2 separate regions of the Homo sapiens genome follow, and region 1 is linked to region 2. The links come from fine-mapping of genetic effects on gene expression. A gene starts in region 2. The other region holds a variant in brackets. All regions are shown on one strand. Distances are between the middles of the regions.

The links. PIP is the estimated chance that this variant, and not a neighbour inherited with it, causes the effect.
Region 1: its variant is fine-mapped to the expression of ATP6V0A4 in nasal epithelium (TOPMed, PIP 0.91).

What each region holds. Positions count from the first base shown.
Region 1 is chr7:138,771,703-138,777,075 of GRCh38, forward strand. All of the region lies in intron 2 of ATP6V0A4 (ATPase H+ transporting V0 subunit a4), which reads right to left. Among named protein-coding and RNA genes, the nearest start is that of TMEM213, 24 kb to the right of the region's middle. RefSeq lists enhancers at 1,750-2,253, 2,254-2,756. The variant C/G (reference allele first, on the strand shown) is at 2,310.
Region 2 is chr7:138,795,157-138,800,529 of GRCh38, forward strand. ATP6V0A4 (ATPase H+ transporting V0 subunit a4) reads right to left here and starts at 3,040. Exons shown (of 22, transcript NM_020632.3): 1 at 2,878-3,040. It overlaps TMEM213 (transmembrane protein 213), which reads left to right and starts at 2,838. Exons shown (of 3, transcript NM_001085429.2): 1 at 2,838-3,030. The coding sequence starts at 2,949. RefSeq lists a silencer at 2,808-3,102.

The DNA.
Region 1 (5,373 bases), 23 kb before region 2:
TCAACCTCCTGGGCTCAAGAGATCCTCCTGCCTCAGCCTCCTATGTAGCTGGGACTGCAGGTGTGCACCACCACACCCAGCTAGTTGTTTTATTTTTTTGTTGAGACAGAGTCTTGCTGTGTTGCCCAGGCTGGTATTGAACTCCTGGACTGAAGTGATCCTCCCACTCTGGTCTCTCAAAGTGCTGGGATTACAGGCATGAGCCACTGCTCTCAGCTGGCAAAATATTTTAAAATATGACTAAAGACTCAAGTTGTGGAGGGTATGAGAAAACAGGCCCTTTCATGCACTCGAATGTCACTCTAGAACTCAGTTGTGGGTATCACAACCAACTCTGGATTCCAGAATACTTTGTCTTCAATTTCCCTAGTCAGGAAAAATAGTTTTTGTCATCAGAATGAGATTTGGTAATCCATATGCCCATTGGGTATATCCAACGTTAACGTGTAAATTCTTTGTAGCTTTTTCAGAGAGCAATTTATCAATGTCTATCAAATCTTATATCCCTCATACCCACAAATCAAGATGTCCACTGCTATTTATCCAGATAGACCTGGATATGTATGGAGAAACAGATGAACAAGAATGTTTCTTATAATATTGTATGTAATAATTATAGTAAATGGCTGTAACCTAGATATCCATCATTAGGGGAATGATTAAATAAACTGTGATATAACAGAGCCCTGTGCAGTCAGCAGGAATAAAATAAATCTGTATGTCCTGTATATGGAAGAAGGATGCCCACGGGTGAGTGGGGCAGGGGAATGGTGCGAGTTAGGTTAGCCAAAACTGACCTGCAAGACACAGTTCCACCATACAGTCATAAGTGTGTATTGACACTGCTGATTAAAGAAAGACTAAGACTCACACTCCTGAAAGGGGAATCTCAAACATCTAGACTGAAATAGATTAAAACATCCACCATACTGTAACAGATGCATGTCCAAAGTTTAACTGTGAAACTGGGGGATGATCTTGAAGCCATTGCCACCAGCCCGCACACAGCATACGTAGCCAGGGAACGGAGCCCTGGTCATCAGAGGCCTCCCAGCAGCGATCAATGCATTCCAAACTCTGGGGTGGGGCAGTTTGTCACTCCTGAACATTTCTCCATTCCTTAATAGACCATCCAAGTCATGCTGCCCATTGGACTGCCTTTAGTGTCACTTAGAACAGGTGGCAGGGAAGGACACCTCCCAGGGGTTGGAAGAAAGTGAAGCTCTTTCCAATGGTGAAGTTGAAGGCCACATGAGAGCCAAGGGGAGGAGGAGGGCACAGAAGCTATTCCCAAAGATCCTCCCGACGGCCCTACTGCTGCCAAATCACACTTTTTCCCCCCAGGTCAACCTTCTGGAAGAATTTCCACACCTCCAGAGTAGATTTAATTTTATCACGTACAGAGTATCTACTGTGTGCTCGATACTGGGCCTACCCATTGTCCCAGTTTCACACAGGACCAACTCTAAAGTCCTCGAGCTGGCCAGCCGAAGGCTGCAGGACCTGGCCTCCTCTGTGTCCTCCTCCAGCTTTGGCCTCTCCAGGGACCCTGCATTTCTCCCAGCTCCCACCCCCTTCAGGCCCTTCGCCCAGGCTTTCCCCTGGGTTTGGAAACTCAATATCCTCCTCTCCACCGTCCATCCCACGCCCCGCATGACCCTGTCACTCCTCCAGTCTCCATGTAAGGATCTTCTTCCTCCACAAGCCTTCCCTGACACCTCCAGCTCCCTCAAGGAGCTAAGCCCCCTCCTACATGCCCCCAGAAGAGCAATCATTTGCAATCGCTTGTTTAACTGCCTGGATTCCCCACACACAAACCAGTGAAGTCCACGAGGCTAGAACCATTCCCTGTTTCCACTCCCACACCGGTCTAGGTCAACAGCACCACAAAGTGGGTACTCCAGAAGCAATACCCCATGTATAGACCAGAGGATAAACATCATCCCTCAGGAAGTGCACATGGTCTGGGCCCACATTTGTGCCTTTTGACACCAAGATGAATTCAAAGCTCTCCTACTGCCCTGTCTAGTAACTACAGCCAAGTGAACATAGACCAGAGACCCAAGGCATTCACTTTATGCAGATCAAAAGCACAGCATCAACACCCTTCTTACCCCAGCTTCCTCCAGGCGGGTCCTGGGTCAGGGTCTGGGGCAGACGGTGGTTTCCCCAACCTGACGCACGGAGCAGGGAGCCCCAGGTCTGGCAGCCCTCCGTGCTTGCTAGCAGTCCTGGGCGGAGCAGCAGCCAGTGAATCCGCAGGTGGCTTCCCCGCAGCGCCCCTCCCGGCTCCTTCTCCTCCCAGGCTC[C/G]CAAAGAGCCAGGAGGCAGCTCTGTTGTATCAACACTGGCCTGTTGTGGGTGAAGACAAACCTGCCCCACCGGCCAGCCTGCTCAGCCCCCGCCCCACCTGTGCCCTCTGCCATGACCTTAAGTTCCCAGCAGGAAGCATTCATTTATTTTCTAATGAAAGTAACTTGCCCCTCAGGGAGCTGAAGGTTGAGGACAAGATTCCTGGAGGCCTTAGAAGGACCCCAGTAAACCAAAACATCCCTTGAACTTGTAAAAACAAAATAACTTTGAAAAATAATTTTGGGGGCCGGGCGCCGTGGCTCACGCCGGTAATTCCAGCACTTTGGGAGGCTGAGGTGGGCGGATCATTTGAGGTCAGGAGTTTGAGACTAGCCTGGCCAACATGGTGAAATCCTGTCTCTACTAAAAATACGAAAAAATGAGCAGAGTGTGGTGGCGGGTGCCTGTAATCCCAGCTACTCAGGAGGCTGAGGCAGGAGAATCGCTTGAACCCAGGAAGCAGAGGTTGCAGTGAGCCTAGATCACGCCACTGCACTCCAGCCTGGGCAACAGAGCCAGACTCCATCTCAAAAATAAATAAATAAATATATATATCTATATATATAATATATTATATACATTATATATATTATATACATTATATATTATATATTATATACATTATATATAGTATATACACATATGTATATACGTGTGTATATATGTGTGTATATACATATATAAATGAAAAAATTAAAATAGTTTTGGAAAATAAAAAATATCACACTCACCATCCTATCAACTATTAACCAAAACACTCTACTTTCAAAGGAAAATAGAAGACTCCTTATGAAATGCCCAATGGCTGAAATTCAGCTTCCGCTGTGGCCCAGGTAAAAAGAGACAGAAGCATATGTGATATGTGCCCTTTTCCTTTGGAGGGGTCTTGTCTTTTCCTATTTCTTTGACAGAGGGTGCGAGGGGCAGAACAAGCCAATTAGGTGCATTTCTCTTGCCCAGGGGTGCGGGGCTGCAACAGCCACCTGCGTTTGTTTGAATGAGCTTTGCTTCTCCAGGGTGGTGCACAGATCCCCCACAGGGACTCTCCCCACCAGTGGCCTTAGAAGGTACCCCAGAATGAGTGAGGGGGGTGCTTTTTTTTAACTTTTCTGTACTTTTCTGCAAAAGTACAGCAAATAGTACAGGGAACCCCTACGTACACATTACTTGGCCACACCAGTTCATGAATGTTCTATCATCCACACCCCACCCACTTCCCCTCCCCACCTCTGATTATTTGGAAGCAAATCCCATACATCATATTATTTCTTTCAAAATATTCCAGCAGGTATCTCTAAAAGATAAGGATTCTTTTATACGCACATATACACACACAAACACACATAAAATACCAGTCACTCCTAAAATTCAATAATTCTTAAATTTGCCTTAATTCTAGGATTCAAGTTTCCTAGATTGTCTGTGATTTGCATTTTTTTTTAAGAGGCAGGGTCTTGCTCTGTTGTCCAGGCTGGAGTGTGGTGGCGCAAACACAGCTCACTGCAGCCTCAACCTCCTGGGCTCAAGTGATCCTCCCACCTCAGCCTCCTGAGTAGCTAGGACTACAGGTGTGCATCACTATGATTGGGCTGATTTTTTTTTTTTTTTTTTTTTTTTGAGACAGTCTCTCGCTCTGTCGCCCAGGCTGGAGTGCAGTGGCGCGATCTCGGCTCACTGCAAGCTCTGCCTCCTGGGTTCACGCCATTCTCCTGCCTCAGCCTCCCAAGTAGCTGGGACTATAGGCGCCCGCCACCACGCCCAGCTAATTTTTTGTATTTTTAGTAGAGACGGGGTTTCACCGGGTTAGCCAGGATGGTCTCGATCTCCTGACCTTGTGATCCACCTGCCTCAGCCTCCCAAAGTGCTGGGATTACAGGCGTGAGCCACCGTGCTCAGCCATTGGCTGATTTTTTTATTTTAATTTTTATAAAATATGACAACATAAAGACAGGGTATCACTATGTTGCCCAGGCTGGCCTCCAACTCCTAGCCTACAAGTAATCCTCCCACCTCTGCTTCCCAAAGTGCTGGGATTACAGGTATGAACCACCATGCCTGGCCAAGACTTGCATTTTTAATAAGCTCCTCAGGTGATACTTGTGCATGATCAAATTAGAACGATTGTTTAGAGAACACAGGGTGAGAAATCAAACTTTAGGCTGGGAAGCAGCAGGGAGGAGCTGTAGGCGGTTTGGGAAAATCAGCTAAGCTGAGGCAGCGATTGTGAACCTGGGGCAGTGGAGGCCCAGCCCTCTGAGAGAGCACCTGCTCTGTACCCTGGAGGAAAGGAGTTGCTTGCGTTTCTTGAGAGGCGGAGCTCAGCTGCACCCACCCATCCTGCCAGGGCAGATCTGTCCAAGAATCCAGACACCTGGATGAAGTTCCAAAGGCTGAACTCAAGATTTGCAAAGAAGAGCAGGAAGATAAGAACTGTGTTGATTCTACCTCTCCCTTCATATGAGCTCCAGAGGCACTAGGAGCCCTGGCCTCAATTCGTGCCTCCCTCCACTCTCCACTTCACCCTCCTACCTCTCATCTTGCTCTTCCCCAAGGCAGGTGTTTGCTTTGTCTCCCAGTCAGCGGGTGGGGCCATAGTTTTCAAACGTCTGGGTGCTCAGAAACCACTCAGGAACATGTGGAGAAAAGAGTACACGTACCTAATGGTTAAGAGCAGAGGCTCCAGCCCAACTACTGGAGTCAGGATCCCAGCTCTGCCATTTACCATGCGTGACCTTGGGAAAGCTATTTAACCTCAGGGCCTCAGTGACCTTATCTGAAAAACAGAAGAGGCTTACTTAGAAAGTGGAAGTATAGGCTGGACGCGGTGGCTCACGCCTGTAATCCCAGCAGTTTGGGAGCCTGAGGCAGGAGGATCACTTTGAGGCCAGGAGTTCGAGACCAGCCTGGCCAACATGGTGAAAACTCCCCTCTCCACTAATAATACAAATTTAGCCAGGTGTGGTGGCGTGTGCCTGTAATCCCAGCTACTCAGGAGGCTGAGGCACGAGAATCGCTTGAACCCGG
Region 2 (5,373 bases):
TTCCCAAAGTGCTGGGATTACAGGCCTGAGCCACCGTGCCTGGCCCAGCCTATACTATTTTCGAATAACAAAGTTCTTCCATCTGTAGATAGGAGAATGTTTGTCCTACAAACAGCTCATCTAAAACAGTCCGACATCACATAACAATGATAAAATAGGGAGGGAGGGCCAACACATTATCCCCCTCCTCCACATCCACTGCTTGCCAGAAAAGCTTTCCCTGATACGACTTGATAGGATGGTCTCAGCTTAGGCTGCAGATGCTGTTCAATCCACCACTACAATAACCCCAGGCAGGCCATCTTACATGTTTGCATACCTCAGGTTCCGATTCCATAGGAGGGACAGGCTCTGCTCACGTCAAACACATTAAAATGCACCCAGCGTCCCACATTAAATCGTTTCCGTTTAAACATTTCAAGTGAACTGTATAACTTTGCTTTTGAAACAATCATTTATTTTGCCCAGTTTTTGATTGTTCAAATTTTTGTTTGTTTGTTTGGGGACAGGGTCTCACTGTGTCACCCAGGCTGGAGTGCAGTGGTGCCATCTCAGCTCACTGCAGCCTCAACCTCCTGGGCTCAAGTGATCCTCCCACCTCAGCCTCCTGAGTAGCTGAGACTACAGGTGCACACTACCATACCCAAGTAATTTTTTTGTGTTTTTTTTTGTTTGTTTTGCGGAGGCAGGGTCTTACTATGTTGTGCAGGCTGGTCTTGAACTCCCTGGCTCAAGTGATCTTCCCACCTCGGCCTCCCAAAGTGTTGGGATGACAGGCGTGTGCCAATATGCCTGGTCTGTTCTTCAAATTTTGGATCTGAGAATATTTTCTCAGGTCTCAAACATTTTTGAGATCCTTGGAAATCTTGGGGATTCCACGTACCGCTGTTATCCCTAGTACCCATTGGATAAATCAGTCCTGCCCTGTGAAGCCCACTGCAGGGTTTACTTGTGAGGAAAACATCGAGGACAGCATTTGTTCTACTAAGCAGCGTCCTCTCTGTGGGGACCTTGAGTTCCTTGAGCACAAGGGCTGTGTGGTCTTTCTCACCCCCAGGTCCCCACACCGAGAGCCTGGCCTGGCATGCAACTGTTTAATGTTCAACTAGTGGTAATGCCTAAACTGGACTTCTGTGCACTGACTGAAAATCACCCTTCCTAGGGCACGTTGGCCCTATCCCCAAATCCAGGAACATAGGCCACCACTATTTTATATCTTAGAGCCAATTAGAAAAAAGTGCCTCCCCTGGGCTGTTACACTCCACTAGGAAATCTTTCCTTGGGGCTTACTCACGCCTTCTATGTCTTTCCACAGAGCTGGAGTCCACCCCTCACCCTTACCAGGCCCATTCATGCGCAGGAACACTTCCACACATGGCAGGCTGTGTGCACACAGACGATTCCCTCGCCTTTATAGGTGCTATTCCTTTGACTTGAAAAGCCCATCAACTCTAATCTGCACATACAAACTTCAGCACCCAGCCCAAATGTCACTTTCTCTGTGAATCCTTCCCCTATACCTCTCAGGCAGAGTTCATCCCATCCTCCTTTTTATTCCCATCACAGTGGAAGGTACCCCTATTTGAGTCTTGCCAGGTTGCATCAAATTTCTTTCTTCCGGGTTTGGTTCCCTGCTGCACTGTGCTCTCAAGGGGAAGAGGCGTGTCTCAGTCATCTCAGTCTCCAGTGCCTAGGATGAGACCTTTTATATACATGTGGGTCTTCAATAAATGTTTTAGACGGAATGCAGAGCTCTAGTCAAGTTACTCCTCAGCTCAAAATCTCTACAGAACCTTCCCCTTTGCTTCCTGACTTTGTTTCAAATTCCTCTACCAGGCACGCAGAAGCTTAGCCCACAGCTCTCCTCTTGCCTCCCCACCTCACATGCCTTGGCTCACCTGCGCTTCTGGGTGCTGCTGGTACAGCCACCCTCTGACACTTCCTTACCTCTGGACCTTTGCTCATCTGTCCCTCTACCTATAATGCCATCTTCCCCTCTCCCCCTGTCAAAATTCTAGCCATCCTTCAAGGCCCAGGCCAAATGCCATTTTCTTTTTTTTTTTTTTTTTTTTTTTGGAGATGGAGTCTCCCTCTGTCGGCCAAGCTGGAATGCAGGGTCAGGAGCATCTCAGCTTACTGCAACCTCTGTCTTCCGGGTTCAAGCGATTTTCCTGCCTCAGCTTCCCAAGTGGCTGGGACTACAGGCATGCACCACCACACCTGGCTAATTTTTGTATTTTTATTAGAGATGGGGTTTCACCATTTTGGCCAGGCTGGTCTTGAACTCCTGACTTCAAGTGATCCACCTGCCTCAGCCTCCCAGAGTGCTGGGACTACAGGGTGAGCCCCCATGCCCAACCTCAAATGCCATTTTCTTCTTGAAGCATCCCATCAGCAGATGTGGCCTCCACTGTTGAAACCCACAGTGCTTTATCCTCCCAAGCCATTCCTCAAACACGGTTCTGGGGTTGAATGATGCGTGTTTGTAATTAACGCACTTCGACAGCAGGTATCTCCCAACTTCAGCATAGTGGGTGCTCAGTGAATATTGGCCCAAATGGAATTGAGCATCCATGCTACACCTGCAGATGGGAGAGGCAGCAAACTCATGTCCCAGGAACCAGCATGACACAGATCTCTCTTGTCCTCCCCTTGTTTCTCAATAAGGACAATATTTGCGCTCAGGGGAGAAGGGCACAGCTTGCCCCTCCCTTCCTTCCTCAGCCAACGGTTTGGCTTCCCTTCTAGAGAGGTGAGAGAAGGTGTGACAGGCCAAGTTTCCTTTGCTCCACCCCATGGTGTTTCCCCCAAACACCCAGCATAAGTTCACCTCTGGCAGAGTTGCTTTCCAGCTCCTGCAGGTGGGAGTCGACTCACCTGCAGCAGGCACTCGGCACAACTCCGCAGGACCGGCTCACCTGCACCGGGCACTCAGCACAGCCTCCAGCATGCAGCGCCTCCCCGCTGCCACCCGGGCCACCCTGATCCTCAGCCTGGCCTTTGCCTCCCTCCACTCGGCTTGCTCGGCAGGTAGCGTTATGAGCTTTATTCATGGCCAGGCTGGGAAGGGGGAGGGAAGGAGGGAAGAGAGGTGGGAGGGAAAGAAGGAGGAGGGGGAAGATTCTTTGGCCAGGGTTGGTCCTGCGCAAAGGAAGGAGGAAACAGAACTTTCTCATCTGAAGGATTAGGCAGGGGGTGGGAGGTGGGGCTGGGGCAGGGGGGGTCTTAGGTTGGCCTGAGACGGAGATCAGATACTCAATTCCTCAGCTAAGGCAGGAGCAGCCACCTCTCTTGGCCTTTGCCACAAAGAAAGGAAAAAGTTATTTGCTGGAGTCTCACCCATCAGGGGACCAAAATGATATCTCTTGGTCCGCTGTGTCCTGAAGGCTCCTTCTCAGCCCCACTGGGCTGTCGTGCTTTGCAATCCTCCCTGTGCACATTTGTGTCTGACCTTCCCTTTCCTAAGTCCTCCATCCCTCCCTGCCCCTTGTACTTTCTCTGCGACTTTCACAAAACCTGACTGCCAGGAGGGCTGCCATTCACTGTCTCCCACCCTCCTGCCTCCCCGGGCACTGGAAATGCTGGGTTATCTCCCCATTTTCCTGTGGAGGCTGGAAGGCTGATCTACATCCCCTGCCTTGCCCTGCCAGGCCGGGTTCTGCAACTCACGGCAGAGGGACCTTGGTTACCATCTTCTGCTCCTGGCTTTGATCTTGTTCTCAGCCACCTCAGAACACCACCACACTCTCTATGCCCTGCAACACTCCTGCTCCCAAAACCAACCCTGCCCCCAAAGTCCTGTGTCTGCCCCTCTCATCCTCAGACTCTCTTCTGTAGCCACTGCCAGGGGTGTTGGTGTTGAGGTTCAAGACGTGCACTCTTGAGCCGCTGAGCCTGAACCCAGGTCCAGCTTCCATGACTCACTAGCTATGCGACCTCGAGCAAATGACTTTACCTCTCTATGCCAAGTTTCCTCCTTTATCTCATGGGGACAATCATAGTGCTTGTCAAGACGAATTGATGTAATTTCATGTAAAGAACTTAGAAATAGCCCATAGAACACACACAGTGAATGTCAGCAATTATGGTAAGCACATTCATTTTATTTTCCAACTTCACCCCTCCCCAAATAAGAGTGCTGAGTTTCTTTCTACTTACCCCGACAGTGCCTTGCTTATGATGGGAGCTCAGAATCAGAAGACAAGTTTAACTGCACTGAATCGTTGGGTCTTCCCAGCAGCTTTTCTTGTGGAATAGCCCCAAGTAGGGCCAGTCCCTCCCTCGCTTCTGGCTCTGCTTATAAGGGAGGAGGGCGATGTTTAAATTCTTAGGAATTTTCACCGGGGCTATTCCATTTGAACCACAGAAAATTGCTGATATTGAACAATTTTCACCTATAACAATGGCAATTTCATAAGCTCGAACCTAACCCTAGCATTCAGCCAACTAGGGTTTTTTTCCACTCACTTTGGAAGAGGACAACTTCCATTCTAGGTGTAGAGGTGAAATGAAAGTCAGGGCCAAGGAAGTTATTTGAGTCATAAGGAAAATTAGAATAGTGAGGAATCAGTTTCTCCAAAACAAATAAAGACCAGGCTCTAAGCCATTTAGCTGTAAATAATTTACAGTAACAGATTGCATCGAGGCAATTACTATACTTTAAGCAGGACATTGGAGTGGCTTGGGGGTTGGGTGGCATAAAATTAGTCTCAGCAGCAACTTCATGGCTTTAGCTAAACAGCAGGTTTCTTCTGAACTCGTCCTGCTGTGACAACAAGCTCCCTTGAAGGACACACTGACCCACAGCCAGGGGAACCTTGAGAGTTTCCATGCCCACCACTTTTTTTTTTTTCCTTTTTGCATTCCCCAAGAAGCAGAACGAACAGCAATATAATTTCTAGGAAGGTTCTTCCAATCCATCTCTTGGTTTCCATCTACCTAGGTCAGCATGAGCACTGTCTAATAATAGAACTTGCACTGAGGGTGGAAATGTCCCATGTCTGAGTGGTGCTTCCAATATGGTAGCCACTAGTCACACGCGGCAATGGAACCCTTGGCATGGGTCTAATGTAAACAAGAAGCTGAGTTTTTTTTACTGAATTTGATTTTAATAAATTTAAACAACCACAGGTGGCTAGTGGCTGCCGTATTGAACAGTATGGACTTAGAGGTCATCTCTCTTCTTATTGTCAGTTATGGACAGGAACCTGGATGCCTCAGATCCCTAACCCAATCCCACACCTCAAGACAACAGGACTTTAACAATTCATGCTAAAGTCCTTTTTATCTTTCCACTCCTTGCTCATGAATCAATCTATGTGCTGCGTATTCTGGCAGTCTCTGGGCTTGCTTCTATGATGTTTAATTTTTTTT